Homo sapiens: one gene and its partners. The protein of the gene in region 1 interacts with the protein of each later gene in a pairwise test. Each region holds a gene or a part of one and is shown in the gene's direction. Other genes may lie near its edges.

Region 1 (7,026 bases):
TACTAAACTACCCCAGCTCTGATGCTTCTCCCCCGAACTCCCTTATCCCATGGCAGGACAACATCTAACAAGGAGAGAGTACTGATTCCCAAATTCTAGGACACTGGGTAATTTCCCAAGGAATCAACACATACCTGCTCCCTTCCCCTTCCCTGAAAAGTATTAAAAAAAAAAAAAGGCAAGCTGTCCCTCAGCTCATTGGTCAGGGGGCTTCCTACCCTTTGAAGATGCCTCATTCTGGGCGCTACCCCTCCAAAGGCAGAGACCTGGGTCTGTGGAAAGGGAGAGAGAGGTAGAAAGTGATGGAGTCACACTGTGCAGGGGGAAGCAGTGTCCCAGATGTCCCCAATGCTCTTAAAGAAGCCGTTTATGTTGGCATACTGAACAGACACGTGTCACATTCAAATCTATGTAATTCCAATTCAGAGGATGCTTACCCACCCTCATGCCTGGGGAAAGCACACAGATGGGAGCCTTGAGAAGTAAGGCTGGGAAAGATTTTCACCACACTGATCTTTTGGGATGAATGGGAATACCTAGGGAATAGCTGGGAGAATCTGCCAGGAATACCAAGGAAAGGATTCCTGACCTAGATGGGTAGTTAACCACGAAGATTTAAGATTCTTCATCTTATGCCTTGGTGATGCTGAGTTTACTGCCCTGCAGGAGCTGTCCCAGTTGCAGACCCAGGTCGGTGACACATCCGTGGTGCTGTCCATGGACAACAACCGCAACCTGGACCTGGATAGTATCATCGCCGAGGTCAAAGCACAATACGAGGACATTGCCAACCGCAGCCGGGCCGAGGCTGAGTCCTGGTACCAGACCAAGGTGAGCATGGACACCTCCATGAGAGGTTCCAGGGTTAGTGTTCTCTGAGGCTCCACATTATCACTTAACTCAGCCTCAGGAAACGTGTGAGCACATTCGTTTATTTCAACTTAGCAGGCATGTCTTTGATGCTATGACAACTTAGCTTGAAATGCATGTGGAAACCGAACCAGACACACTAATACATGGTCAGCCCAATGCTGGGAGCTCAGGACATCCACTGGCCCCACATTCCTCAAGATCTGGGTGGGAGCAGGGTGAGACACCAGGACAACCGAGACACAGTCATGAAGCAGTTTCTAAAAGGCTTATTTATTCTCTATATATTTTCTGAGCTCCTGCTGTATGCCAATCAGGGTTACAGGGTTGCAAATAAATAAACTGCAAACAGAGAACCCAAGCTCTGGGAGGCCATGAAGTGAATGGACAATCATGGAAGGGAAAAGATAGCATGAATAAAAAGCTTCCAGGAAGACATGGGGGCTTTGTACAGTTGGGAAGCCATGAGGGACAAAAGATTGCTGAGGAGTGGGGAGAGGTTTAAGGCTGAACAAGGAGCTGGCAGGCAAGAACAAGCAAGGGAGTTTATGTCAGGAAGAGGAAGGCTGGGATAAACACAAACAGCTACTGCCCAGAGCTCAGACAGCCGCAAAGAAGTTTGGCTTTGCGGGGTACAATTGACCCATGATACCAGCTCCCTGTCAAATCCAGACCCCTCTTGGGGCAGCTTCTCACCTACGAGCAGGTTCCAACTCTTTCCCTGCTCCATACGTTGCCTCATCCCTTCTGGTCAGGAGTGTGGTGGAAAGGAAGGTGGGTAGCAGGGACCAGGGTTCCACAGGGCAGAGGCAGCGCCTTGACGGTGAAAGGAAACATGATGCACTTAACCCCAAGGTGAAGTGGTTGAAATCGATAGCAAACGATTCCTCATGTTGTTGGGTTGTTGCTCCATTTAATCATGTATACCTAGAAGCGGGAACCTGAGCTATTCAGCACTTTCAAGAACCCCACAGATCTTGACTCTGGCAGGGGATCTCCTTTTGTCAGGGAAAGGTGTAGGTTTCACTTCAGTCTGCTGGAGGAGACAGGGTGTAATTATTGCTCTTAAATTCACATGTCCTGGATATGCACCATTAGATTGAGAACTACCTGAGATTGGGAATACTTTTACAAAGTCTTCAAAATTGTGCCTTCCACAGCCTCTGCACCATCCCACACCATTCCCCCATATCTCCTCCCTGTTTCCCCAGCACTGGTGTTTGGAGGGCTACCAAAATTCATGGGCACAGTTGGTCTGGATGCACGCTCTGTGACCAGGAACTACCCAGGGACCTTGATCAAATCACCGTCTCACTCCTAGAACTCACCATGTTCCTTCCCTGACCCAGAGTCTTCATGCAGGCTGTTTCCTTTGTCTGGAATGTTCTCCCCCACAACTGGTCACTTAGGTCCCTCCTTCTCATCCTTCAGACCACAGTTCAAGCATCTCCATCTCTGGAGAGACTTCTCTGACCACCACTTCCCACTTCCAAATCTAGGTCAGATTCCTTCATTACACTCTCCCAGGACCCTGTTCATTTCCTAAGGGCACTTATCTTAGTGTGGAACTATACATTTGATAATATGCTAATTCAGTTAATGTCTATGTCCCCCAATAAACTGTAAGCTTCAGGGGGAATGAGTGAATGACCAGGAATGAATGAGCCTGCTTGTGGCACCCAGGGTGGGTCTGTGTGCACAGCGAGTGCCTGGGCCAGGCATTTGACTCAGTGACTGGGTTTGCTCTGGTTCTCTCAGTACGAGGAGCTGCAGGTCACCGCAGGCAGACATGGGGATGACCTTCGAAACACCAAACAAGAGATCTCTGAAATGAACCGCATGATCCAGAGGCTGAGAGCTGAGATTGACAGCGTCAAGAAGCAGGTAAAGATTTGGCAGGGCCAAGAGCTCCTCAAATGCTCATTTCTTCTGGGCCTTTCTGCCATCTTTAAGAACTCCTCCCCAAGAAGCACCACACCTCCATGGGCTGTCAGCAGGACTCATGGCTTCCTCCTGTCCTTACAGTGTTCCAGCTTGCAAACGGCCATTGCTGATGCAGAGCAGCGGGGAGAACTGGCTCTCAAGGATGCACGGGCCAAGCTGGTGGACCTTGAGGAGGCCCTGCAGAAGGCCAAGCAGGACATGGCTCGGCTCCTGCGTGAGTACCAGGAGCTGATGAACATCAAGCTGGCCCTGGACGTGGAGATCGCCACCTACCGCAAGCTGCTGGAAGGCGAGGAGTGCAGGTGAGGCAGATGCACCAACTTCATCCTCAAAGCAAGTTGAGCTCACCTCAGCTTCCTGGGCATTCCTAGGGGCTCGGGCTGTTGCAGCCCCTTCTTCTCCTGGAAGAAAATGCAGTTCAGAATTGGGCTATGGCAAAAAAATAATTTTAATTTCCTTCCAGGCTAGTAAATCATTTGAGGTGCAACTACAGTTAGCATCCCCATAGAAACCTAAAACCTGATCAGGTCTAAGTAACTGAATTCTACCAAAGGAGACATTTGGTTACATGGCAGCTCTCGAAATGTGGTCTAAAAGGCCATGGGCTGAGAACAAACAGTCCTAGGATTTGGGCTTACAGATCTAACACTAAGTAGCTACATAACCTTGGGAAAGTCAGTCTCCCTTCTCTGGCCCTCAATTTCTTCAATGATAAAATGAAAAGGTCAGATTACATGATCCGCAAAGCTTCATGGGAGCTTTGTGCTCTGCCAGTTAGGAGCTGTGTAGCCAAGAGCAGATACTTAACCTCTCCACCTCTCAGTGTTCTCATCCAATAAAATGTGAATAACAATAGTTCTAAACTCTCACATTATTAAAAGGGTTAAAATAAGGGAATACACACAAAGCTCTTAGAACAATGCATGGTACACAGCGTGTTCGATAAATGTTAGCTATCATTCAGTTTCATGGCCAAAGACATAGGCTTTGGTGTCAGATGAATCTGTCTTCAAGTCCAGCTTTGCGACTATGGGCAAGTTAGTTAACTTGTCTGAGCTTCCATTTCTCCCTCTATAAAAGTGAGCAAATAATACCTACCTCATGGGGTTGTTGAGAGAACTAAGTGGTGTGATATAAGTAACAGGTAATCAACAGCTGTTACCTCTTGTTAAGTTTCTCAGTATGTGTTTATGAATGAATGCCAGTTCTGTCCTGAAGATGCTAAAGCAAAGTTACTTGGTTGCTAAGATAATAATAAACTGATATTACTATTGTTATTTTTATGACTCAGACGCCTCTCCACACCTATATACAATAAGCTCAGCCCTGGCTCAGTGCATGACAATGGTCCCTTGTTGAGAGACAAATCTTATTATAGGACAGGCCCTTCTTTCCAGTTGATGCCAGTATATGATTACTTTTAATTTCCTTAAGGCATCTAACTAGTTTAAACCAAAAATTGTATTTCTGAGATTATAGATTTTGCTCCTGTGAACCTCAAACTCCACCTTATTTTATTCATTAGATTATTAATATTATCTTTAATACTACTAGTTCTCAAATAATTTCAACCTGCATTACTTCTGCAATAAAAATAATAAAGTATGTTTAAATGCTTTGTCAACAATTACAAAAGTGTCATTGCAAAGGCCCTTAAGCTGCTGGCCACATTGGTAACCTTCCTTCTCCCTGCTCTTCCCAATCAGGTTGAGTGGAGAGGGAGTTTCTCCAGTTAACATTTGTGAGTATGACATACTTCTTGGGCCATTTGGAGTGTGTGTGGTAGAGGGGATGGGGATGTGGTGGGCTTGCCAGAGGGTGAAGATATGACGGGTTAGACGGGATCTCACAGACAGCGTTCATTTGGAGAAGGTTTGAGGTTTTGGGTCCCTTAAAAAGCAAGCCATATTAGGAGTCTTTAATGTCACAGTTCTTTCCTCTTTGAGAGTGAGGGTGTCACAGAAGGGGTGATGAGAGGTTTGATGTCATTGTTCTGAGTGGGTTTAAAAGATCCTGGCCACATCTCCTACCTCCCAGAATTCCCTGCCTTTTTGTTGGGGCTGCAAGCCTAGCACAGAGGTGAGCACTTGATGTAGACGGGATTTATGAAAATTCCTGGTCTGGCTTGGACCTTTGAAGGGAGCCTTCATGCTGTGGACAAGAGCATTGCCAACTAGGCAGCTTCTCTCCTAAACAGTTTGAGAAGAAGCTCCACTGCTTGGCTCAACTCTGCCGAGTATAACTGCAGAAGGATGCCAAGGGTTTTCAAGGCAGTAAGGGCAGCATAAAATATGGCAGTTGGCTACAGTAGCTCTAAAACAGGAGAGGTATTAACAAGCTGGCATGGCCCTGTGCTGGTGAGAGAAGAAGTGGTCATTCGCAGAGCTCAGTGCTGGCATCACAAGGGCAACAGAAATGACTCTTACAACTCACCCTCTACAAGTGAGTTTGAGTTTGGTTTTCTTGATGGGCATTCATAAGGGCAATTCATTATATTAGCCAATGATTCTAGAAGGCAGAGCCCTCTGAACCACCCAGGTGTCCTTCCTCCCTGATGTCTTTGTCTAGTGGTGCCAGAGACCCTCAAAGCTAATTTTGGGGACAGGCCTTCAAGCATAACCTTGAAGCTCCTTTTCTCTTGAAAACACCTAATTGTCTGTATTAGTTTTCCAGGGCTGTTGCAAAAAGTACCACCAGTCAGGTGGTTTAAAGCAACAGAAATGTCTTGTCTCACAGTTCCGGAGGCTGAAATTAAGGGTTAGCAGGGCCCTGGTCCCTCTGAAACTTGGAGCCTGGACCAGCCTCCTGCTCTGTATATCATGCAGGGTGGCACTATCCCCTCTCCAAACCAGATAGTGTTCTGGAACACGGAGGCAGCATGGGCAGCCCAGCCCCCCTCCAGCCTCCTCCTAGCTCTGGCGGTGGCCATCCATCCTCGGTGTTCCTTGGCTTGTGGCTGCATCCCTCCACTCTCTGTTTCTGTGATTGTATGACCGTGTCCCTGTGTGTCTGTGGCTTCAGATGAATGTCTTCCTTCTTTCTGTATGGACACCAGTCATGTTAGATCAGGGCCCACCCTACAGACTTTATCTTAACTTGGTTATACCTGCAACGATCCCATTTCCAAATAAGGTTGCATTCACGGATACTGGTGTTAACACTTCACCATAGGTTTTTGAAGGACACAATTCATCCTATAACGGAGTCTATTTTTTTAAAATTTGATTTTCCTTCGGCAGGACCCAAAGTAGGGTGCTAGAATGTGTAAGGGGATGAGTTATAAATTAGGAGAAGAATAGGTTGGGAGGAGAACGGGGGCAGAGTTCACTGGCCAACAGGTTAATCTGTCACTTGATCCATCAAGAATATTCCAGCCTCCACCCTGGGATTCTGAGTGTGGGGCTGGGAGACGCTGAGGGAAGAGGAGTGTGCCCCTCCCCCCATAAGCATCCAGAAGGAAGAGAAACTCTGGAGTCAGGCTCAGACAGGGAGACAGACCCAGACGGCACAGCAGGAGGATCAAAGGGAAAGCAGGTGGACTGGAGCTGCTTCCAGGAGGAGAGGGCTCCAGTAGGTTCTGGAAGGGGAGGAGGAAGCCATTCCAGCCTAAGAGGCTGCCTGGAGCTGCAGCTCAGGAACACAGGCAGTGATCTCACTAAGCAGGGGACATTGGAAGGAGGCAAACTGCTGGCTGACGAGACCACCCCCTCCCCACCCAAGGACTCCAGGGCACAGGCCCTCACACTCCCAGCTGTCTTCTCGCTTGCACTTGATCTGACCACACCTCCTCTCTTCCCGGCAGCTGTGGTCACCTCTACTCTTTCCAGTGGCTATGGAAGCGGCAGCAGCATTGGAGGTGGAAACCTGGGCCTCGGTGGGGGCAGCGGCTACTCCTTCACCACCAGTGGTGGGCATAGCCTGGGTGCAGGCCTGGGAGGTTCTGGATTCAGTGCCACCAGCAACCGGGGCTTAGGGGGCAGTGGTTCTAGCGTCAAGTTTGTCTCCACCACATCCTCCAGCCAGAAGAGCTACACGCACTAAGAGAGCCCCATGGCTCCCTCTACCCTGCCTTGAGGCCTGTTTGCAGTCACACCTGGACACCAGGGTCCTCCTCCTTCCTCTCTCCTTGTAAGGTGCACCTGTGCTGCTGGGAGCCTGGAGTACTGGCTATACCCATTCCCAGGCCTAAGCCAGCCTCTCCCTCCTGACAGT
Region 2 (7,026 bases), on another chromosome or scaffold:
GCAGAACTGCTGCAGTGGGAGCAGGGGTGGGTGACACCCACTAGGGAGGTGCTTTCAAACTCCTACTGCTCCAAGGAGCAAGCTAGAAAATCCCACTTCTCAGGCCCCTTCCACTAGGACACACTATGAGCTTAACACTGCTAAGAACTCACTGAGGAATGGTGACATTTGGGGGCGGCTCCTTCAGTGCTTTGTTTGGCTTCTTTTTTAAATTATAAATGGTGGTTTGAAAGTTGTTGGAGGGGAAAATCAGATGAAATCAGGGATGTGGCTGAAGCAGTCAGTGTAGCAGTGTAGCAGAGAAGCAGAGAAGCTGTCAGCAGCCTACCCAGGCCCCGAAATGGGCACAGCCCTGCATTTCTGGCCTGAGGCTTGCCGAGGTCTTAGGTGAACTTCAGCTCTTTCTACAGCACCCCAGTCTCAGCACTCTTTGGTGGATGTCCTGATTGGCTGGGAGATTGTTGCTTCCTGATACAGTGGTGATTACTTCTGAAAGATGGGGTAATACCAACAGCTATCGTTTCTGACCATTTACTGTGCAGCATCACTGTGCAAAGTATTTTTATACATATCCTATTGACTCCTCTCAAAACTCCTGTGAGGCAAGCAGGCACCCCAGTGGCCTCATCCTAGTTCTGGCCCTGGTGACATTATGATTGCCTCCATCCTCCATTTGATAGGTACAGAAACTGAGGTTCAGAGAAGTGAAGTAAATTCCCCCAGATCACGCAGCTAGCAAACAGCTGAGCTTCTATGCTCATCCTAAGGCTCGGTTGAAATGGATTTTTTAAAAGATGTATTTTGGGCTCTTTACTATATAGAAAACCGAATCTGTTTATCACTAAGGTTACTAATAGGCCTTACATCTGTGAAAACTTATCTGTCAGCTGGCCCTGAAATGTTCTGAAATGAGTCTGAGCACAGGATGCCTGTGACAACCGAATAGTTTAAAAAAATTCTCCATGGGAGCCGAAACCCTATTAAGACAGGTCTTTATTTTTGTTCCTGAATGCCACATTTAGAAACAAAATGTCATATTTTTGTATATGAATGTCACAAGTGACAAAGCATATGTTGCAACTTGGCTTCTAATGGTTGAAAAAAAAAGAGAGGTAAATTATCATAATGTTGGGATCTTCTCAATTATATTTGCATTTTCATTTCTATCAGAAGTCCATTTTAGCAAAGGAATGTAACCTTAGTCACTTGAAACTGCTGTTCCCTTAGAAAACAATTGTAAATGTAATAAGCAAAAAGGATAGAAAATGCCCACAGGGGAAAAAAATGATCCATCTGGGGTCAGAGCCATCGTGTAGATTGATTCATTCTTCTTCTAGCATTCTTATTCAGGAAGGAAAACTTGAACATTTTCTAGATTTTAGGATATTTAAGATTTGCAAGGAATTGGGGGAAAGGGAAAAGGAATGAAATTTCAGTCCCACTGGCAGGGATCAAATAGAGATTTTCTCAACTTTTAAAAGAACCGTTTTACATGTCCCAATCACCTCATAGTTCCTGAGTCTCTCTTCTGCATAAGGCATGTACTAGTTGTTAAGGGAGGATACAATAAGGTCATGATTGCTTTAAAATTATTCATAATAAAAACACATTTTGAGACTTGATTCTAAATGTTAAACTTAAATTTGAGCAATTTAATTGCCCGTTGAATAGGAATGAAATCCCACCGGTAGGCAGTTATTTCTTACAACCACTGTGTGTGAAATTGAAATCTTAAGATACCATTTCAAATATTCACCTTCTCTAAGGAAGTTCTCCCCAAAGAGTTGTGAAAGATAAGAAACTGACCCAAAGTCATATGCAGTAATCTCTTTTTCTTTACACACTCAGGTCAAAGTAGAAGCATATTATTAAAAAGAAACGTTATGCCCTGAATTTGGCTGTTCTGAGGTTACCTCTTGGAACCCAAGGATATATTTAATTTAAAAACTGACTTGAGCCCCATGCAAAACTGTGACAAGGAAAGTAATAATTTATCAGATTAAATAAAAACAAGCAGATGTGGCCAGGCGCGGTGGCTCATGCCTGCAATCCCAGCACTGTGGGAGGCTGAGGCAGATGGACCGCCTGAGGTCAGGAGTTTCAGACCAGCCTGGCCAACATGGTGAAACCCCGTCTCTACTAAAAATACAAAAAATTAGCTAGGCGTGGTGGCGAGCGCCTGTAATCCCAGCTACTCGGGAGGCTGAGGCAGGGAAAATCGCTTGAACCCAGGAGGCAGAGGTTGCAGTGAGCTGAGATCGCACCATTGCACTCCAGCCTGGGTATCAGAGCGAGACTCCATCTCAAAAAACAAACAAACAAACAAATAACACCCAAGCAGATGCAAACAGGTCATTTAGTCACCACGATAATGAACGTTAAAATGGAAAACACTTACATGTTTTATTTAGGAGAAGAAGGGGGTGAGGTGAAGGAATCCTGTTTCCTGCTTTTAAAAAACAGGAAATAGTTTCCAAATTTGGGTGGGCAATTCTTATTTTAAACCCCCATTTCACCTTTAAATTTAATTTCAAGCTCTTTTAAAATTATCTTAATGATGCCCTTTACTATAACATAGCAGCTGCCATTTATGAGTGCTTACTATATACCAGTTGCTTTTCATGCAAGCAACTTCATATCTGTTATTACCCCCATGCCATTACAAATCTATGTGCCACCCTTTTGTGCACTAACTCATATAATCCCCACAATAACTTAGGCAATAGGTTCTGTCGTCTCCATTTTACAGATGAGGATACTGGGAGTTTATTTGTTTGTTTGTTTATTTATTTTGAGACGGAGTCTCACTCTGTCACCCAGGCTGGAGTGCAATGGCGCGATCTCTGCTCACTGCAACCTCTGCCTCCTGGGTTCAAGTGATTCTCCTGCCTCAGCCTCCCGAGTAGCTGGGGTTACAGGCATGTGCCACCACACCTGGCTAATTTTTGTATTTTTAGTAGAGATGGGGTTTCACCATGTTGGGCAGGCTGGTCATGAACTCCTGACCTCAAGTGATCCACCCGCCTCGGCCTCTCAAAGTGCTGGGATCGCCTCGGCCTCTCAAAGTGCTGGGATTACAGGTGTGGGCCACCGAGCCCGGCCAGGATACTGGGAGTTTAAATTCCTGCTGTGAGCCCAGGTTGACACAGCTGGTCAAGGATGGGTTAGAATCCAGGTAGTCTGACTCCAGAGCTACTACCGCATACTGCCTCCTCAGATTAAATAATTTTCCTAGGACATGCTAACTGATAAGTAAGAGTCTAAATCAAACCCAGGCAGTTGGGTTCCAAAATTCCAGCGTTTAACCACCACATTGACTGGTTATAAGTAGGTAAACTGTTCATCACAACCTATATATTTATTTTCATTTCTGTTAGAAATGAAAGTAGTGTGGTAGGTTACATATTTATCACATAGTTTAGGCTTGCCTAAATTCTAAGTATTTTCTTTTTTAAATTAAAAACAAGGGTCTATCGGAAAAAAAAAAACCCAACTTTTTTTTTTTTTTTTTTTTTTGAGACAGGGTCTCACTCTGTTCCCCAGACTGGGGGGCAATGGTGCGATCATGGCTCACTGCAGCCTCAACCTCCTGGGCTCAAGCAATCCTCCCACCTCCGCCTCCCGAGTAGCTAGGATTTCAGGCAAGCACCACCACGCCCAGCTAATTATTTTTATTTTTTATTTTTTGTAGAAACGGGGTCTCACTGTGTTGCTCAGGCTAGCCTGGGTCTCCCAAAGTGCTGGGATCACAAGCATGAGCCACCGAGCACAGCCGAAAAAGTCTTTTTGTATACTGAAGTCTCCACTAGGACAAAAATTTGCTCTTAAGGCTTCCTTTGGGACACACACACACACACACACACACACACACACACACACACAGCTTTTGATTATACCCATTAGGGACCCAAGCCTTGGGACACAGGGACCAGAAAATGACAAGAGCATGCAGGCAGTAGTAAACTCTGGTTATCCTTAAAATGGGAACAGAAATGTATGCCTATGATCCAGACTGATCATATAAAACCATGGATCCTGAAAGTACGTTCCCTCTTTACAAGCCTTAATGACTGGCATCACGCACAAATAGGCCTTTCAGCTTCTGAACGCAGATATTTTCAAGGAACTCTGAGGCCCAGGAGAGCCTAAGTTTTTCTCCACGGAAGGGCAAACTACTAGCCTCCCCCGCTTCCCCTCTGCGTTCCTGCCTCTTTCTAGAAGGAGGCTGAGAGGGGGAAGCCTGAACCCCCAAATCAAGTCCGCCTTCTTTCTCTGTGCCTGACCCAGGGCAAAATAATCTCTCTGATCCTGTTCTTGACCATTGAAAAAGCACTTTCTCTGGTCGGGATACTACTGGCACTTTACATGGGGGGCAGTTTAACCGCAGGAGTCCGCTTTCTGAAAGGTGCAGAGGGAGGGGATTCCGCCACCAGCCGACTGAGAGGAGCCCCGGCCCCGCGTGGTCCCTCCCAGCCACCCTCCCTCTGGGATTAGCTGCCCTGGCTCTGCTCTAGGCGTCCCCAGCCCGTGCAGTCCCGGCTGGCGCACCACCATCGCCTCTGCAGAGCGCGGCCGCAGCCCGGAGCCCGCAGCCCGGAGCCCGCAGCCTGGGGCCCGCAGCCCGTAGCCCGCAGCCCGCAGAGCCGCGCTGTCCGGGGCATCCCAGTGCACGGCGTCCGTGGACCTGGGACCTCGAACCTGGGACGGGCGGAAAATCCACTGGGAACACTTGCATTTCTGTAGGTGCTTATTTCACATTCTTGTCTTTTCTTGCTTGCTCGAGCTGTTCGTGGGTTACTTTCTGCCTTAGTTAAACCAAAAGGGAAAGGCGGAAGAGGGGAAGCCCTGAAGAATGATTTAGTGGTTGCCCAGCCTCCTTTCCAAGGAGAGGTGTTCGCTGAGCGGCTCTCCCCGTCCCCGACACTGGCCCCTTTAAGAAGCCAAGTCAGTCCTGATGCTGCTGTTTGTATTGCTAATCCCCAGGAGCCCCGTTTAAAAAAAAAAAAAAAAAAAGGAAGAAAAAAGGGGAGGTGGGGGGACCGGGCAGCTGTCTCTTTAAATGTGATTTCCTTCTATTGTATTTGAATCGTGATCAGGAAAAAGGAAATGAAACCAGAGACAGAGGGAAGCTGAGCGAAAATAGACCTTCCCGAGAGAGGAGGAAGCCCGGAGAGAGACGCACGGTCCCCTCCCCGCCCCTAGGCCGCCGCCCCCTCTCTGCCCTCGGCGGCGAGCAGCGCGCCGCGACCCGGGCCGAAGGTGCGAGGGGCTCCGGGCGGCCGGGCGGGCGCACACCATCCCCGCGGGCGGCGCGGAGCCGGCGACAGCGCGCGAGAGGGACCGGGCGGTGGCGGCGGCGGGACCGGGATGGAAGGTTAAGTCCTGAGCAGCAGCAGCAGCTGCAGCCGCCTGGAGCCAGGCTGCGCGCCCCGGCCCCCGCCTCGGCCGCGGCGCGCCCGCAGCCCGGTGATTCGCTCTCTCTCTTTGGCGTTTGAAGGGAGCGCGGTGACTGTCCTTGAGCGCGGAGGGGCGAGCTCGCCGGCGGAGCGCCGGAGCAAGCGGAGGCGCAGGAGCGGCGGCGACGGCGGCGGCGGCGGCGGCGCCCGAGCACCCGAGGGGGTCCGAGCCCCGGCAGCCGGCCAGCCCCGCGCCACAAAGGGAGCGCCCCCGCCGCCCGGCACCCCGCCTCCCTCCCCAATGTCCTCGGCCATCGAAAGGAAGAGCCTGGACCCTTCAGAGTAAGTGCGGCCCCCCTGCCCCTGCCACCCCCGGTGTCCACGGCCTCGCGTCCCGGAGCGTCGGGGGGACCCGGGCGGCCCGCGAGGGGGCTCCAGGTGCGCGCTCGCGGCGTGCCCTTGGCCCCCTGTGCCGAGCGCTGGGCTCCTCCTTCCTCCCGGGTGATTCCGGGGGCTCTGGGAGAGGGACTGGGCGGCGGGCGGCAGGGACAGGGGTCGGCCCGGCGCCTCTGCGGGCCACTCCAGGCTACTGGGACGCTCCCCAAAGCCACCACGGGCCAGAAAGTTTGCACGGGAGCAGGCACGAGGAGAGCCTGGAGGCGCGCAGGTGCAGTCCGGAGAGCGTTCTGGGCTTGACTCTGCTCCCTTCTTCCCTCTCCTTCTCGGTCCTTTCTCTTTGTCCATTTGGTCTTGGAAAGGGGAACATTCCAAGTGGCGGCCTCCGGGGTCCCCAACGGCCGCCTTCCCGGTCCGCAGGTGGAGCCGCTGCCAGCCTTGCGGATAACGGGCGGGTGAGGGGTCCGACCGTCCACCTCGGAGCTGGCTCTGGGCCTCCAGGGATTTCTAGAGCAGCGAAATCCGGAGTAAATCTGAGTAGGTGTACCCCTCCTCGGGGTCCACCGATGGGGACATGTGAACCTCGAAAGTTAATGCACCATTTTGTGTATAGGTGAATTATTCTGGGGAGTAGAGTCTCGTAGTTTTTAGCAGAGTCTTAAAAGGGTTTGGGGTCAGGGAACCAGAGCTCTAATGAGCATTGGCCGCATCTGTTTTCTGAGCCGCGTACTGGTTTGGAATGTTTTTCTATCCCTCACCCATTCTTCAGCGTTAACATGGGGAGTAAGGGGTGTTTAAGATATCATTTTCCTGTCAACGCAAATGCCCTTTTAAGAGTCATTAGCTGTCTGGTTTTGAGAATTTTTATTCCTTTGAAGTCCCCCTCTAATCCTTTGAAGGGATTTGTTACACAAGACCAAAGGAGCTGGTTAATGACTTGTCCATTTGTGCTTTTAAGAGACATTTGTTTTGTTTTTTCTTTTCCTGCTTTAAAAGAATTGTGCTTTCCTGCTTGAAATACCGCACACACACACATACACCCTTCAATTTCGGCTTTCTATGGTGTTTATTTACCTGGGTTTTACCCTCAGTTACCAGCATAAAAGCTCAACATATTCTCATAAAACACAGGAAGTACCACCATCCAATGAGAATATAAACATCACTATTCAGTCTTGAAGGTTAAGACACCAGTTCTGTAATGAGCTAGGTTTGTTATAACAAAAACCCCCAC
Region 3 (7,026 bases), on another chromosome or scaffold:
AAAAATAATAAGTTAGCCAGGTGTGACGGCACACACTCGTAGTCCCAGCTACTCCAGAGGCTGAGCTGAGAGGATCGCTTGAGCCCAGGAGGTCAAGGCTGCAGAAAGCCATGGCCACACCACTGCACTCCAACCTAGGCAACAGAGTGACACCCTGTCTTTAAAAAAAAAAAAAAAAAAAAAAAAAAAAAAATATATATATATATATATATAAAATAAAGCATAGGTTCATTTTAATGTCAATAAATTCAAAAATACTTTTATTAGGTTTTACTTTTCTTTTATTAGGTTGTTTGCTATGTCTTTGGCTGATCTAACAAAAACAAATATAGATGAGCATTTCTTCGGCGTGGCATTAGAAAACAATAGGAGGTCTGCAGCATGCAAGAGAAGCCCAGGCACAGGCGATTTTTCACGGAACAGTAATGCTTCCAATAAGAGTGTTGATTATAGCAGATCTCAGTGCTCCTGTGGAAGTTTAAGTTCTCAGTATGATTATTCAGAAGACTTTCTCTGTGATTGTTCAGAAAAGGCTATTAATAGAAATTATTTAAAGCAGCCTGTGGTAAAAGAAAAGGAGAAGAAAAAGTATAATGTTTCTAAAATCTCCCAATCTAAAGGTAAGGAGTAAAATTTCCCAAGCAAGACCAAATTTCTGTCATAATGATGTTATTTTACTGCACTAGTGTTTGAAGTGGTTCATACTCAGTTTTATTGTTTTCCCATATTGTAAATGTGTATTATAGGTGAACTTTTATAGAATAAATTAGGAAATAGAGAAATTAAGAGTAATTATAAAATAACAGAAAGGCTTCACATGTAAAGCCTAGCCCCCTGCATGGCTTACCCTACTGGAGCCTACTAGTGAGGTTAGTTCTGTTTTTAGTTAACAGGTGGCCTTGTTACAGAGTACCACAATATTTGGATTTCACTGGCTTCTTGCCTTTCATCTCAGCTGAAGAATCAGTGTTTGAATTGCCAGTGAAATGTAAATACCTATCTCAGCACCCCAAGAGGATGGTCTCCAAGTCTGGTGAGACATATTGGCAAACACCATCTTTTGAAACAGAGATGGTTCAAAAGGCTGTTAATAATGTCATTTCTTTGTAGATTTTTTTTTTTTTTTTTTGAGACAGAGTCTTGCTCTGGTTACCCAGGCTGGAGTGCAGTGGCGCCATCTCGGCTCACTGCAAGCTCTGCCTCCCGGGTTCACGCCATTCTCCTGCCTCAGCCTCCTGAGTAGCTGGGACTACAGGCACCCACCACCACGCCCGGCTAATTTTTTGTATTTTTAGTAGAGACAGGGTTTCACCGTGTTAGCCAGGATGGTCTCGATCTCCTGACCTCGTGATCCGCCTGCCTCGGCCTCCCAAAGTGCTGGGATTACAGGCGTGAGCCACCGCGCCCGGCTCTTTGTAGATTTTTAAAGTACCAGCTCTATCAACTCCCAGCTGTCCAAATTGGAATTAGCTTGTGTTATCTTTGATCTCCTTTCTTCCTCCTTCCCTGCCCAGACTGTAATTCCTTCCTCCCATTTGAGGCAATCTTGAGCTCATAAGTATTCCTTATATAGAAACAGCTGGGGCTCTTGTCCATGTTGACCATCAGAGCACTTCAGTCAACAGGAGGACAATAAAGGGCCTGCTGTTTGGGGAGTGCATCTGCCACCGCCATGTCCACCTTGCATCTTGCATCCCCAGTCTGCTGTTACCAGCTGTGTCCAGGACCCTCTGTGCCACTTCTGGAACACCCAGAATCTTCAGTTCCCCTGCTATAGCACAGGGATTCTTTATCTAAGACACATGTCTGTGAACCCCATGAAATTCTATGCATTTTTTTGTGTCTATGTGTGTTTGTAAACTTTTCTAGACGGCCCTGTACCTTTCATCAGAGTCTCAAAAGGTTAAATGTTACTTTTCTAGAGAGCTGGGGGTCCTACCTCCACTGGCAAGGCCCAGGGCAGGAAATGAAAAGTCCAGTACTTCTCTCATGCCTGGACTCCATCAAAAATGAACATCATGGTTAGATCCTACAAACACACAATTCCTTATCCACATTTGAAATTTACAAATCTCCAAAAACCCAACATCTTTCATATCCTTGGCATCAAAGTTGATTTGGCAACAAAAACCTTATTTGAACTAATATGAAGCAGATCTTTAGTTATTTCACTTAGTGTGAATAGTGATTATAATTTCACTGCAAAAATATAGTTTCATTAAAGGGTGTTGTTCCAGACCCCAATGAGAGAACTGTGGAAAATACCATATATGCACTCACCTTTAAAACCCACCCCCAAATTCTGAAACAGTCTGGTTCCAAGGGTTTACAATAAGAGATCTTGAATCTATATACTACATTTTATATTGATGGTAAGCTTTTGTGGGATCATGCAAGAGGGCAGTTGGCATTTATAAAACTTTCTACAAGAGAGAAATTGCATTTCGAATTCTAAGTACCTTATAATTTAGCTTTTTAAAGCTGATTACTCTTGGAGTATATATTCCTCCATCAAGTATGCGTGATGGATACAGTATGAATTTGTTACATACCCCTCAAATGCAAGTGGTGTACTTACCTTTCTGAAGCCAACAAACCTGGCTTGTCCTCCCCACCCACTCACTAGGGTAGACAGGAAAGTCAATCTCAGACACGTTTGGGGAATAAGGGAATATGAGGGGGCAGGGACATGGAAAGGGCCTCACACAAAGAAGAATACTGGGGGAGAAGCCTCTGCCCTTCATTTTTACCACTTACATGTTCCTTGTCCAAGCCATATGATCTTTAAAAGGCCAGCACCTCCCCTTTCCAACGCATCCATGCCCTCTGTGCACTTCTTGACTCCTGGGGCCTTGGCCAGAGCTCCTGTGGCCATGGCGTTTAGTCCCTTAGCACCCTCTCATGCCTCTGCCCTCCCATCACTTGAGCATGGCATGAGAGGGAAATATAAGCCTCCAGTGCCCATGGATCCCATCACGCATCCTTCTCATCTCAGTGAAATCCCTCTCCTCCAGGGTCAGAGCACCTAAGAGCTGGAAGACATTACAAGTTGGGGGTCAGGTTCAGTCATGCTGGCCATAGTGTAGAACATGTCAGTCCTCGCCCACCCCTGTTTTAAACCAGCCTGATCCATACGGCCTGGGTCTAGAGCTTCCCTAGCCAGTGCCCAGAGTATTAAAGTGTACGGCCTCAACAAAACCACAGACACCTCTTCGCAGGCCTTCTAGTAGATGTCCTAGAGGCTGGCCTGCTCTGCTTTCCACTTACTGTGCTCAGAAGCCTATTCTAAAATACTTAATATTCAGCCATAGCCCCTACTAAACCATGGGAAAATAAATACACTTGAAGGTATAATTGCAAAGACAGGCCACCAGTTATTGATGTTATACTGTGTTGTATAATCTATGAGTTCTTTCATAGTTATGATTCAAATGTTTTATCCCCAGAAAGCATGCTTTGGCTCTCTTGGTTCATTGTTTCTATCACAGGTAGAATTGCCTTTCCCACCACCTGGAGCAGACATATTAAGCCACATCTCAGATGTGTCCACACTTGGACCAGTAGTTTAAGGTTAGGACTTGGGTGACACTGGCCACTAAGTGTCCTTCCCTCTCCAGAATGAGGATCAGACATTTTTAGAGTTTAGAATCCAGTTTCAATTTCTCCTTCTCCGAATCTAGATATATGAATACATACACTTGCACACCACATATACATTTACATACACAGGTGCACACATACATATACCTCTATATCCTACAAATGCACACACCTGTGGGGCACTAGCATAGGCACATAGACAATGGGCTCTGTCTCACCACTTCCTAGCTGTGTGCTCATTGACAAGGGACATCCCCAAGCTTCCATGTGTTTATCTTTAAAATGGGATAATAGTACAGTGATTTACAAATGTATTTAACATACTCAAATTCAATTAGGTAAGTTTGGTGCTAACTGATAATTTTTAGAGACTTTTTGTTTAAGATAGACCCCTGGACACATGCCAATTACTTCATTTGGTGCCCAGCCAAAGTAACAGGAAAAATTAACTGTGTTGGATTTATTGAGAGATGGAAAATCGGTATCTGTATAAACAGATAGACTCTTATGCAATTTGATGACCTTTTGAGGGTCATTTTGAATATATAAGTTCTTTACATTGGATTCTCATGTTATACTCTAATTACCCATAACATATTGTTGAAAGGATTACATCAGATAATCTACAGAAAGCATTTAGTTTAATGCCTGACATATGATAAGCACTTAGTAAATTTCAGCTATTGTCATGGGGTTGGTTTGTTTGTTTTTGAGACAGGGTCTCACTTTGTCACCCAGGCTGGAATGCAGTGGTGCAATCATAGCTCACTGCAGCCTCAAACTCCTGGGCTCAAGGGATCCTCCCGCCAAGGCTTCCTGAGGAGCTAGGACTATAGGCATGTGCCACCATGTTAGGCTACTTTTCAAAATTTTGTAGAGGCCGGGCACAATGGCTCCCACCTGTAATCCCAGCACTTTGGGAGGCCAAGGAGGGTGGATCACTTGAGGGTCAGGAGTTTGAGACCAGCCTGGCCAACATGGTGAAACTCCGTCTCTACTAAAAATACAAAAATTAGCAGGGCATAGTGGCAGACACGTGTAATCCCAGCTACTCGGGAGGCTGAGGCAGGAGAATCGCTTGAACCCGGGATGCAGAGGTTGCAGTGAGCCAAGGTTGCACCACTACACTCCAGCCTGGGCAATGGAGGGAGACTCCATCTCAAAAAAAAATAAAAATAAACATTTAAAAAAATTGTTTTTTAGAGATGGGATCTTAACTCTGTTGATCAGGCTGGTCTCAAACTCTTGTCCTCAAGCAGTCCTCCCACTGCAGCCTCCCAAAGTGTAGAGATTACAGACATGAGCCACTGCACCTGGCCTATTATCACAGCTTTTAGTCTAGCTGTTATAATAGAAATCTAAGTACAGATTTTAGAGTCAAAGAAGACCTGGTTTTCAATCCATTCTGTGTCACTTCGTGGCTATGTAATCTTGGACAAATGATGTAAAATCTCCAGCTATAAAATATATTACAACTGATCTTAAAGAATTGTATTAAATGAGGTAGTTATATATAAAGTACCTAGCCTAAAGCATGGGTATTCATTAAATGATAGTTTTGTCCCCTTCTAGTTACACTTACGCTTGTGTGTATGTGTGTGGTGTGTGTGCATGGGGGCATGGGAGAGAGATTATGCATATGTGCATATTTGCATATCTGTATATTTTACTAGTAATAAACTGGATTTTCTGCTTACACAGGCCAGAAGGAAATATCAGTTGAAAAAAAGCACACCTGGAATGCATCACTCTTTAATTCTCAAATCCATATGATTGCCCAAAGAAGAGATGCTATGGCTCATCGAATACTCTCAGCAAGGCTTCATAAAATTAAAGGACTAAAAAATGAATTAGCTGATATGCATCATAAATTGGAAGCCATCCTTACAGAAAACCAATTTTTGAAACAACTTCAGCTTAGGCATTTGAAAGCTATAGGAAAATATGAGAATTCACAAAATAATCTACCTCAAATTATGGCTAAACATCAGAATGAAGTAAAAAATTTAAGGCAACTACTTAGGAAATCCCAGGAAAAGGAAAGAACTCTATCTAGGAAACTTAGAGAAACTGACAGCCAGTTACTGAAGACTAAAGATATCTTGCAGGCACTGCAGAAACTTTCTGAAGACAAAAACCTTGCAGAAAGGGAAGAACTCACTCATAAATTATCTATTATCACAACAAAAATGGACGCAAATGACAAAAAAATACAGGTCTGTATTTCAGGGGCCCAGACAGTTTAAGATTCCAAAGTTAATAGAGAGAGGGTGTGAATTAATCATGGATGCGCCCCCTCTGTAACAAAGCATTACTAACTGCTTCACTTGGCGTGCTGCACTAAATAATTATGTTGTCTAATAGAGGGCACAGAAAGGGAGTGGTTTGAAGGAAAAACAGAAGCAGCTCAAACTAGAAATGTTCATCTGTTGCAGTGCACAAGAGTTCACTCTGTGGCTGGACTGGTTTATCTGGAAATGACCATTCTCTAAGAGAGCACAGCTACAGTGCTAAGGGACTTTTTCCCTGTGCTGAAAAGATTGCATTGTGTTACGTGAAACCTCTCTTTGAAGTCAACCCTCTACCTTAAACTGTTGATTAAAAGGCTACTTCCCTAAAAACCTACTCAGTGCATCCGTTCAGGGCCTTTGTATTCTCCCTCACCATTTTGGCCAGGAATTACCACACAGACATTTGTAGTTATTTTCAAAATAGCAGCTTTTCCCAGATAATGTTCCTGGGTAGTAGGGAAGGAAAAGGAATTAAAATAATTAAAGAGATGACTGGATTGATTTTCCTCAACAGCACTTGGTTGTCAAAAGCCTGGGGATTACATTATAAGGGATGACTTGGGAGAAGGCATTGATATCATATTAAGAATTCTCCTGCATATCTTACATTAGCTAGTTTGAGTCTGTATAGACATAAACATAAATGGAATTAATTTAGGATTTAATTCTGTAATATTTGATGCTGAAACACGAGTATTTTCTATGATCTTGAAGTAAGTAAATATCAGGTTCGTTTCCTCCACGTTTTAATCTCAGTTATTTCTTCTGTTGTTAAAATTCCCTATTTTCCAATAAATTTTTTTCACATGAAATTAATATGTGATCTACAGAAAATAATGAGCAACCTCAATTTTCACTCTTGTATACCAAAGTGATATTATTGGGCCTTTTAGGTAATATTGTATTCATCTTAGCGTATGTCTGTCATGTAAAAGCAAATCTGTTTTCATGTATGTATCTAAGTTGTTCATGTTTTTATATCTATACATAAAACCAAAACAAATTCCATAACTATTTTCTTTGATACAAAAAGCACTTACCAAGTATGAGAAATTTCTGTTTGGTTGTAGGCATTTAGTGGAGGAAAACTGTTTTGTGGACCAAAACATGTTATTTCTTTAACATTAATGTTTTA
Region 4 (7,026 bases), on another chromosome or scaffold:
ACAGGGAGGGTTTCCCCTCAGAGGAGCCCCTCACCTGGATCTTCACCCCATTATCTTTCTTCCTTTGTGCCCTACCTGGGTGCTCAAGGTGTACGGGAGAAGACAGGTAGAGCTGTGGCCTGGGGGTACAGAAGGGTCTGCAGTGGAGGGAGGCTGGGAGGCCCTGGGGACAAGGACAGGGAGGGGGAGGGGTGAAGGAAGGGGTCACAGTTGGAAGAGGAAAGACACCCTCACCCAGGGCGTGGTGGGGTGCAGACCTGGGATCAGCTTGGCCTGGCTCTGCCTAGCAGCCTGACGAGAGGGGTGGGTGGGGAAGAATGGCCCAGCAGATTGAGGAAGGCCGGTTTTAGAGGGCCTGAGAGCCCTTGGACGTTGGTATTGGCTGTGAAAACTTCTTTAGCGGATGAAGTTGGTGTTTGTGCCAGCCAAATAGTGGGGCCAGACTCAGCATCAAAGCGAGAGGCAATGAGGTGTCAGACTAGAACAGCAACGTGGAATGCTGGGAGGTGACCTAGAGAAGAGGAACCTCAAAGAAGGCTGGAGGAACTCAGTGGCTGATCGAGCACAGCAGGTCAGGGGCTTGGGAGCTTCCAGCCTGGGAGGATGTGGCTACTGTGAATGGGAATGGAAGTTGGGAGTCCCTTTGTCATCTGTAAAATGAGACGTTGGTCCACAATCTCCAGATTCTCCAGCTCAGACATTCTTGGATGTACCTTCCAGGGCACTTCCAGATTCCAGATAGGGCTTGTATTCCAAATCCAAACAGTTTCCTTTTGTCCTTCTACGGTGAGGGGCAGAGGGGGACACTAGAGCCTGACTGGGCAGCAGCTTTAATTTAATTTTTTTTCCTTTTAATTTTTCTTTTCTGTTCCTTTTTCTTCCTGAGATTCCTTTTTACCGGCCCCACCAGTGTTCATCTCCCTTCTGGGAGCAGCATTCCCAGCTCTCCCAGTGTCCTCCCTCCCCTCCCCATTGTCCCCTGACCCCTTTCCTTCTATGCCTCAGTCTGATATTGCAGGGAGGTGAGGGTGTGGGGGGAATGACAGCTGGGGACAGGCCTCAAACACTTCCCTGTGTCCCTTGAACAGATCACAGTGAGCTCATCTCTCCTCCATGGTCAGAAGAGAGGTATAACGCTTGGTGGTTGGCAAAAAGATCATACATTTAAAAATAATAATAAAAGCCTGCCTTGTGCCTTCACAGATTCTGTTGACCGAAGAGTTTGTAGAGAAAATGTTGGAGGATTTAGAAGATTTGACTTCTCCAGAGGAAGTAAGCTTGTTTGACTTTTCCTGACAACAGGTCCCGTCTCTGGGACCATGTGTGTGCGTGCGTGTGCACGTCTGTGCATGCATGTGTGCGTGTGTACCTGTGGTGCGTGTGTGCTTGCATGTATCTGTGTGGCTGCATCTGTGGGCTCCTCCCCAAGGTGCAGGGATAGGCTGGAGAGGAGACTGTAGATTTCTCTTCTGTTTCTATGCACCCTCACCATCCCCTGCCCTACCCCCAGCCCTTGTAAGGACACCCAGCAAATCGTCTGAATTGCCAGCTCCTGAGAGCCTCATTGAAGAGGAAGCCAGGGCCTTCAGGCTAGTACGAGTTCTCCCCAGCCCCTGCTGTTCCCTGGCAGATTCTGAACAGAACGCCCATGTCTGTTGCCAGAGAACATTCCGCTGGGGAGTTCTGGTGGGCAGCAAGGGACTCCTGCTCTCGCCTCGGGCCACCCAGGAGCCACTCTCCCTTCTTCGTCCTCCAGCCATGAGCTGTGCCTCTTAGTCTCCCTCTTCCAGCCCTGGCTCAGAGCTGGAGGAGCTGGCAGGCCAGCTGTGGCTGTGCCTTCTTTAGCTGCTCCTCTGGGGTAGAGGAATGGAGTCCATAATCCCCTTTGTTTTTTCTCCCTTGTTCCCGGCATCCTTATTTGCGAGGGCTTACCTCATCCTGGAAAATCCCTTCCCCTCCCCCGCTCCTGCCCGCAGCACCCCAGTGGGATGGGAGCTTTCCTGGCCCCAGTGCCCCATGGGTTAGTGAACTCTAGCAGGCTGGCCGGGCCTCTGGAGAGCTCTCCTGGGCCCTGCCCTGCCTGTGGCAGAGGCAGACCCTTCCCTTGTCCTGTCTGCCAGGAAATGTGCTTGGGGGAGAACTCCTTCGCCTCCCAGGGGCCAGGCTTTCTACCAAGAGGGAGGCCAGGCGGGAGCTAGGTTCCAGCCAGGGCTGGAGCTTCCAGCTTCCAGGGCTCCCTGGGCTGCAACAGCCAGGACACAGGCCTCTGGTGTTTAGGAAGCTGAGGGGAGTGCACAGGGCGGGACCGTCCAGTCCAGGTCTCCAGTTGGACAGGAACTCCCCAGAGCCAGGGTCACCTCAATAGAGCAGGGTCTCCTCTGTCCTCTGGGATGCAGCTTGAGAAATTTGTTCATTTATATATTCCAAAGCCATCAAGCACCCAGTCCATGCCAGCCAATCAACCCCCACAAGTCACTGGTCCCTGAGTCCCAGCTCCCCATTCAGTCAGACCAGAGCCAGCTGCCCAGAAGCGCTTCCGGAGAGGCCTTGTCGCACTGGGATGGCGCTGTGCCAGGCTGCTGCTTTGAGCTTGGGGGTAGGAGGGGGACAGTCCAGGCAAGAGGGACAGAAGCCTGGGGGAGCAGAGGAAAGTAGGTCACTAAAAATGACTTTTTTCTTTTTTTCCTTTTCTGTCCAGAGGCTGTCCCTACACCCTGCCTCACTCGCCACTTTGGTCCTGGCAGAGACAGTCCCCCAGCAGAGGGAGCGAAGAGGGAGGCAGCCAGGAAGGGTCAGGCTCGTCTGCCTCCAGCCCCAGACCGAGGCAGGCTGAGAACACTGTTCTCTCCTTTCCACCCTGCCCTGACTTCCGGCCTAGCCAAATTAGAAAAGACAGACCCTGGGCCGGGCGCAGTGACTCATGTCTGTAATCCCAGCACTTTGGGAGGCCGAGGCAGGTGGATCACCTGAGGTCGGGAATTTGAGACCAGCCTGACCAACATGGAGAAAACCCATCTCTACTAATAATACAATAATTAGCCGGGCTTGGTGGTGCATGCCTGTAATCTCAGCTACTCGGGAGGCTGAGGCACGAGAATCGCTTGAACCCGGGAAGCAAAAGTTGCAGTGAGCCGAGATCGCGCCATTGCACTCCAGCCTGGGCAACAAGAGCGAAACTCCGTCTCAAAAGAAAAAGAAAAGACAGACCCTGTGTCTAAGTTCCGGTATCAGTCCCAGGCAGTGAGCATTTATTGAGCTCCATCTGTGTGCCAGACTGCATGCAAAGTTCTACAGTAAAGAGGGAATAAGAGGCATCAGCCTCTTCCCCTTCCCCTACCAGAAACTCCCAGGTGAATGGGAGAAACAGAACTGTAGGCAAATCAGTGTATCCTGGGATGGGGTGGGAGACATTTGGCTCTCCTTGGCCACCACTGGGACCACTCTGAGGCTGGTAACCCTGGGAAGTGGTGCGAATGAATACAGGGAGCAGGGTGGGGATTGGCCCCTCTCAGGCCCAAGGGATCACCTCAAACCACACTTGTCCCACTCTTCTGCTCCCACCAAGGCCGCAAGTGTGGTTCTGACTTTGGGGCCGAACTGGGGCCTCCTTCCCTTTGGAGCCTTTGGCCAAGTATACAGAGGACAGGTTCCAGGGTTCTTCCTGCACTAGCCTCTGAAAGAGAGGCCATGGCAGTGACAGAGCTCAGGCCACTTCCCCATAGCCTCCAGACCCTCCCCCAGCCCCCATCCTCCAGCCCCAGGGCCTCAGGGAGCAGATTCTTTACATGCCTGTGGCCAGAGGCAGAACCAAGGAAGTGAGCAAGAGGGAGGTCAGCTTAGTGGAGAAAGGAGGAGAAAACGCCCTCCTCCAACCTGCCTCATTATTGACAGGCCGTGGGGAAAGAAGGGGTCACCAACTCCAGCCGTTTGAGCCCAGCCTGCCACCTGGGTCTAGCATTTGAGAATGAAGCCACGCCTCCCGCGGCCTGTCCTATCCCTAGCTCCCCGGGGACAGGCCTGGGCAATCTCTGGAAAGACCACGGTGTATTCTGCTAACCACTCACACTCCTGGTCTGTGCTTGCTCCCTCCACAGTTCAAACTTCCCAAAGAGTACAGCTGGCCTGAAAAGAAGCTGAAGGTCTCCATCCTGCCTGACGTGGTGTTCGACAGTCCGCTACACTAGCCTGGGCTGGGCCCTGCAGTGGCCAGCAGGGAGCCCAGCTGCTCCCCAGTGACTTCCAGTGTAACAGTTGTGTCAACGAGATCTCCACAAATAAAAGGACAAGTGTGAGGAAGACTGCGCAGTGCCACCCCGCAGCCCAGTGGGGTGCCATGCACAGGCCACAGGCCCTCCACCTCACCTCCAGCTCAGGGGCCGCACCCCGCCGCTGGCTAAGCCTTGTGACCCATCAGGCCAGTGAGTGGGCAAATGCGGACCCTCCCTGCCTGCAGCCTGCACAGATTCTGGTTTGAGGTTTGACTCTGGACCCTGGCTGTGCCCCTAGGTGGAGACAGCCCTCTTTCTCACCTACCCCCTGCCGCACAGCCCAGCAGGAGGGAGGCGGACAGCCAGATGCAGAGCGAGTGGATGCACTTCCCAGCTCATCTCTGGAAGCCTTTGCTACTCAAGCTCCTCTGGCCGCGGAACAATTCCTCTGATCATGTTTGGTTTTCTTCTTCCTTATTTTATTTTGTAGAAACCGGGTGGTATTTTATTGCTCTGCAAAGATGTCCAGAAGCCATGTATATAATGTTTTTTAAACAGAACTTCATTCCCCGTTGAACTTTCGCATTCTCTGACAGAGGCCTAGGGCTGTATCTCTCCCTGGGCTGCCACCAGAGAAGGTGCTTGGTGTTCGCCTGCCAGCCCAGAGCCCTGGAGGAGCCGGCTGCACAGAGAGGCTTTTCTTCCCAGCTGGGCCTGGTGGAGCCCGGGGCAGGGGGAGAGTAGAGACACTCCCTTGTGCAGCTTTGAGCCTAGTTTAGCTGGGGCCAGGGAGGGGTGCTACTGTTTTCCAAGTGAATGGGTCTCAAAGACTTGGTGACCCCAGCCTCATCTTCTAGGCCTTTTCCACCCAACCAGGCCTACCTGGGAGAGGGTGAGGTTCAGCACATCACACACCATCCCCACTGTCATTCAGGGCCTGGGTCTCCAGCTCTGTAACCAGTCCTGTCCCATTTCCTCAGTCCCTGGGCCTCCCAGCCTTCAGGCTGTAGGGCTGCCTTACTAAAATTGAAAAATCCACCTCTTAACATCTCTTTCACTTTGGTTTTGCTAACACTGCTCTCTGCTGCCCTCCCATCCTCCCTGTATCCATTCATGCCCTATCTTTCATTCTCCACTCCTAATCCCTCTCCTTTCTGGCATCCTGGCCTCTCGTGGTCCTCAGCCCCTCACCCCCAGTACTGCAGATCTCACAGTTTGCCTTCCAGAAGCCAGCCTATCTCTAGCCCATGGTTTTGGAGTTCCTCTCGGGTTATCTCCCACGCCTGACCTGGAACCAGCAAGCCCCTTTCCTGCCTTCTTACCCCCAACTCTAGGGATGGGACTGTTACAATACTTCAAGATCACTCTTTACACCTCTTCAAAGCAAAGTCATGACAATGCAGGGCTCCTCATTGCTCCCATCTGCCTCTGCTGCACACACAGGCACCAGCAGGGATGCCACAGGAGTGCCCACAGGGTGCAGGACTCCACTGATGAGAGATCCAGCCAAAGAGCTGCCCCCAGGGGTATGAGGGCACCAGCTGGGTTCTCCAGGGAGCAGGAGTTGGACCTCCATGGAGCCACTAGGCCTGGCCTCCTCTACACATCCCCAGGGCTATCTGGTTAATTCCATCAAGCTCAGAGTTAAAAGGCATATCAGCCTGGAGTATTTGGGAGAGACTGGCTGCAGATCCCCGCCAGCCAAGATGCAAGCCACTCGGGACCTGATGTCGGCAGCTGTGCCTCTACTGCCCTGAGGACTTACCAGAGGGAGCCCTACTGGCCTTCCCCCACCACAGCAGCCCTGCCTGTGAAGCTCTTGTTTCTGACATTTCACAGGCAGAGAGGTGCCATCAGTTCGCCTCCATTCCTTGCCACCATGACCAGCCTCTCCCTGAACTCTCTCTTGCTCGGGACCTGCCTGAGGGCTCCCTGCTGCAGTTCGCCGTACTTCCATCTGCTGGGTGCCTCCATCGTTGGTTGGGTGGGGATGGGGCATTTTCTGAGCTAAGCTTTGTCATTAGTTTGTGAAGCACCTGGTCAGCAACCTGCCCCAGACCTGGAGGGTCTTTGTGGACTGAAGGTAGACACCAGCCAGCATGGTGGCCCTGTTCTGGGGGAGCAGGGTAAGGCAGGAGGAAGTGGGTGAGCTCCGAGATGATGAGCACATGAAGCCTGTGGCCCCTTCGTACCTGCAATATGTCAGGAGCCTCACGCTCACCCAAGATCCTGCAGGGGCCAGGCTCCATCTCACTGGCTCTGAGGGCAGGACAGGGTATCACACATTTCTCACCAGGCCTCCTTTCCTATGGGCATTGGTGCCTCCCAGAGGTTTCTTGGGCTGCTGGCTGGTGAGAGAGGACCCTTAAAGAAGATCAAGCCAAGCTGACCTTGGACCCTGTCCAGCACAGCTTCTGGCACAGGATGCTTGGTGAATGTACCCTTTCTTTCCCTCCCTGCAGCTCTGAGGGAGCCCCTGACCTTGTAGTGGGTGGAGGAGGTAAGGGGCCTCCCTCCCTAAATCTGCCTCTTCTGCAAGCTACTTGGAGACTTGCCTAGTTGTACCCACCCCTCCAGGTCCCTGGTGCTAGAGCTTCTGAGAAGGGCCTTTCCCTTTCCTCTTTGCCTGCTATATAAGGCAGGCTCCTGTGGCTCTGCTGGCTCAGTGTGGGCTGCAGGAGGACTGCAGACTCAGCTGCAATTCTGAGGGGGGTTTGGGAGGCTTGTGCGAGGTCTCAGGCCTGTGTGGGGAGCTGGTGCCTCTTCCTGCCCGTATCTTTCTCTTCCAAGGGCAGTGCTCCAAGGCAGGGACTGGAGA

Evidence for each region.
Region 2: the proteins of KRT75 (region 1) and LMO2 interact in binary tests that used the Homo sapiens proteins (3 or more experiments, as listed by UniProt).
Region 3: the proteins of KRT75 (region 1) and LCA5L interact in binary tests that used the Homo sapiens proteins (3 or more experiments, as listed by UniProt).
Region 4: the proteins of KRT75 (region 1) and SUFU interact in binary tests that used the Homo sapiens proteins (3 or more experiments, as listed by UniProt).

Annotation. Positions count from the first base shown.
Region 1 is NC_000012.12:52,424,346-52,431,371, reverse strand, and holds part of KRT75 (keratin, type II cytoskeletal 75), read left to right. Parts: intron 1-666; coding exon 667-831; intron 832-2,628; coding exon 2,629-2,754; intron 2,755-2,895; coding exon 2,896-3,116; intron 3,117-4,520; coding exon 4,521-4,555; intron 4,556-6,616; coding exon 6,617-6,855; 3' UTR 6,856-7,026.
Region 2 is NC_000011.10:33,868,058-33,875,083, reverse strand, and holds part of LMO2 (rhombotin-2), read left to right. Parts: intron 1-5,096; 5' UTR 5,097-5,367; coding exon 5,368-5,374; exon of another isoform or gene 5,375-5,497; coding exon 5,498-5,738; intron 5,739-7,026. UniProt on the Homo sapiens protein: Acts with TAL1/SCL to regulate red blood cell development. Also acts with LDB1 to maintain erythroid precursors in an immature state.
Region 3 is NC_000021.9:39,421,766-39,428,791, reverse strand, and holds part of LCA5L (lebercilin-like protein), read left to right. Parts: intron 1-263; exon of another isoform or gene 264-288; 5' UTR 289-298; coding exon 299-620; intron 621-886; coding exon of another isoform or gene 887-1,033; intron 1,034-2,757; exon of another isoform or gene 2,758-3,032; intron 3,033-5,301; coding exon 5,302-5,816; coding exon of another isoform or gene 5,817-5,846; exon of another isoform or gene 5,847-7,026.
Region 4 is NC_000010.11:102,625,972-102,632,997, forward strand, and holds part of SUFU (suppressor of fused homolog), read left to right. Parts: intron 1-1,203; coding exon 1,204-1,272; intron 1,273-4,094; coding exon 4,095-4,184; 3' UTR 4,185-7,026. UniProt on the Homo sapiens protein: Negative regulator in the hedgehog/smoothened signaling pathway. Down-regulates GLI1-mediated transactivation of target genes. Down-regulates GLI2-mediated transactivation of target genes. Part of a corepressor complex that acts on DNA-bound GLI1.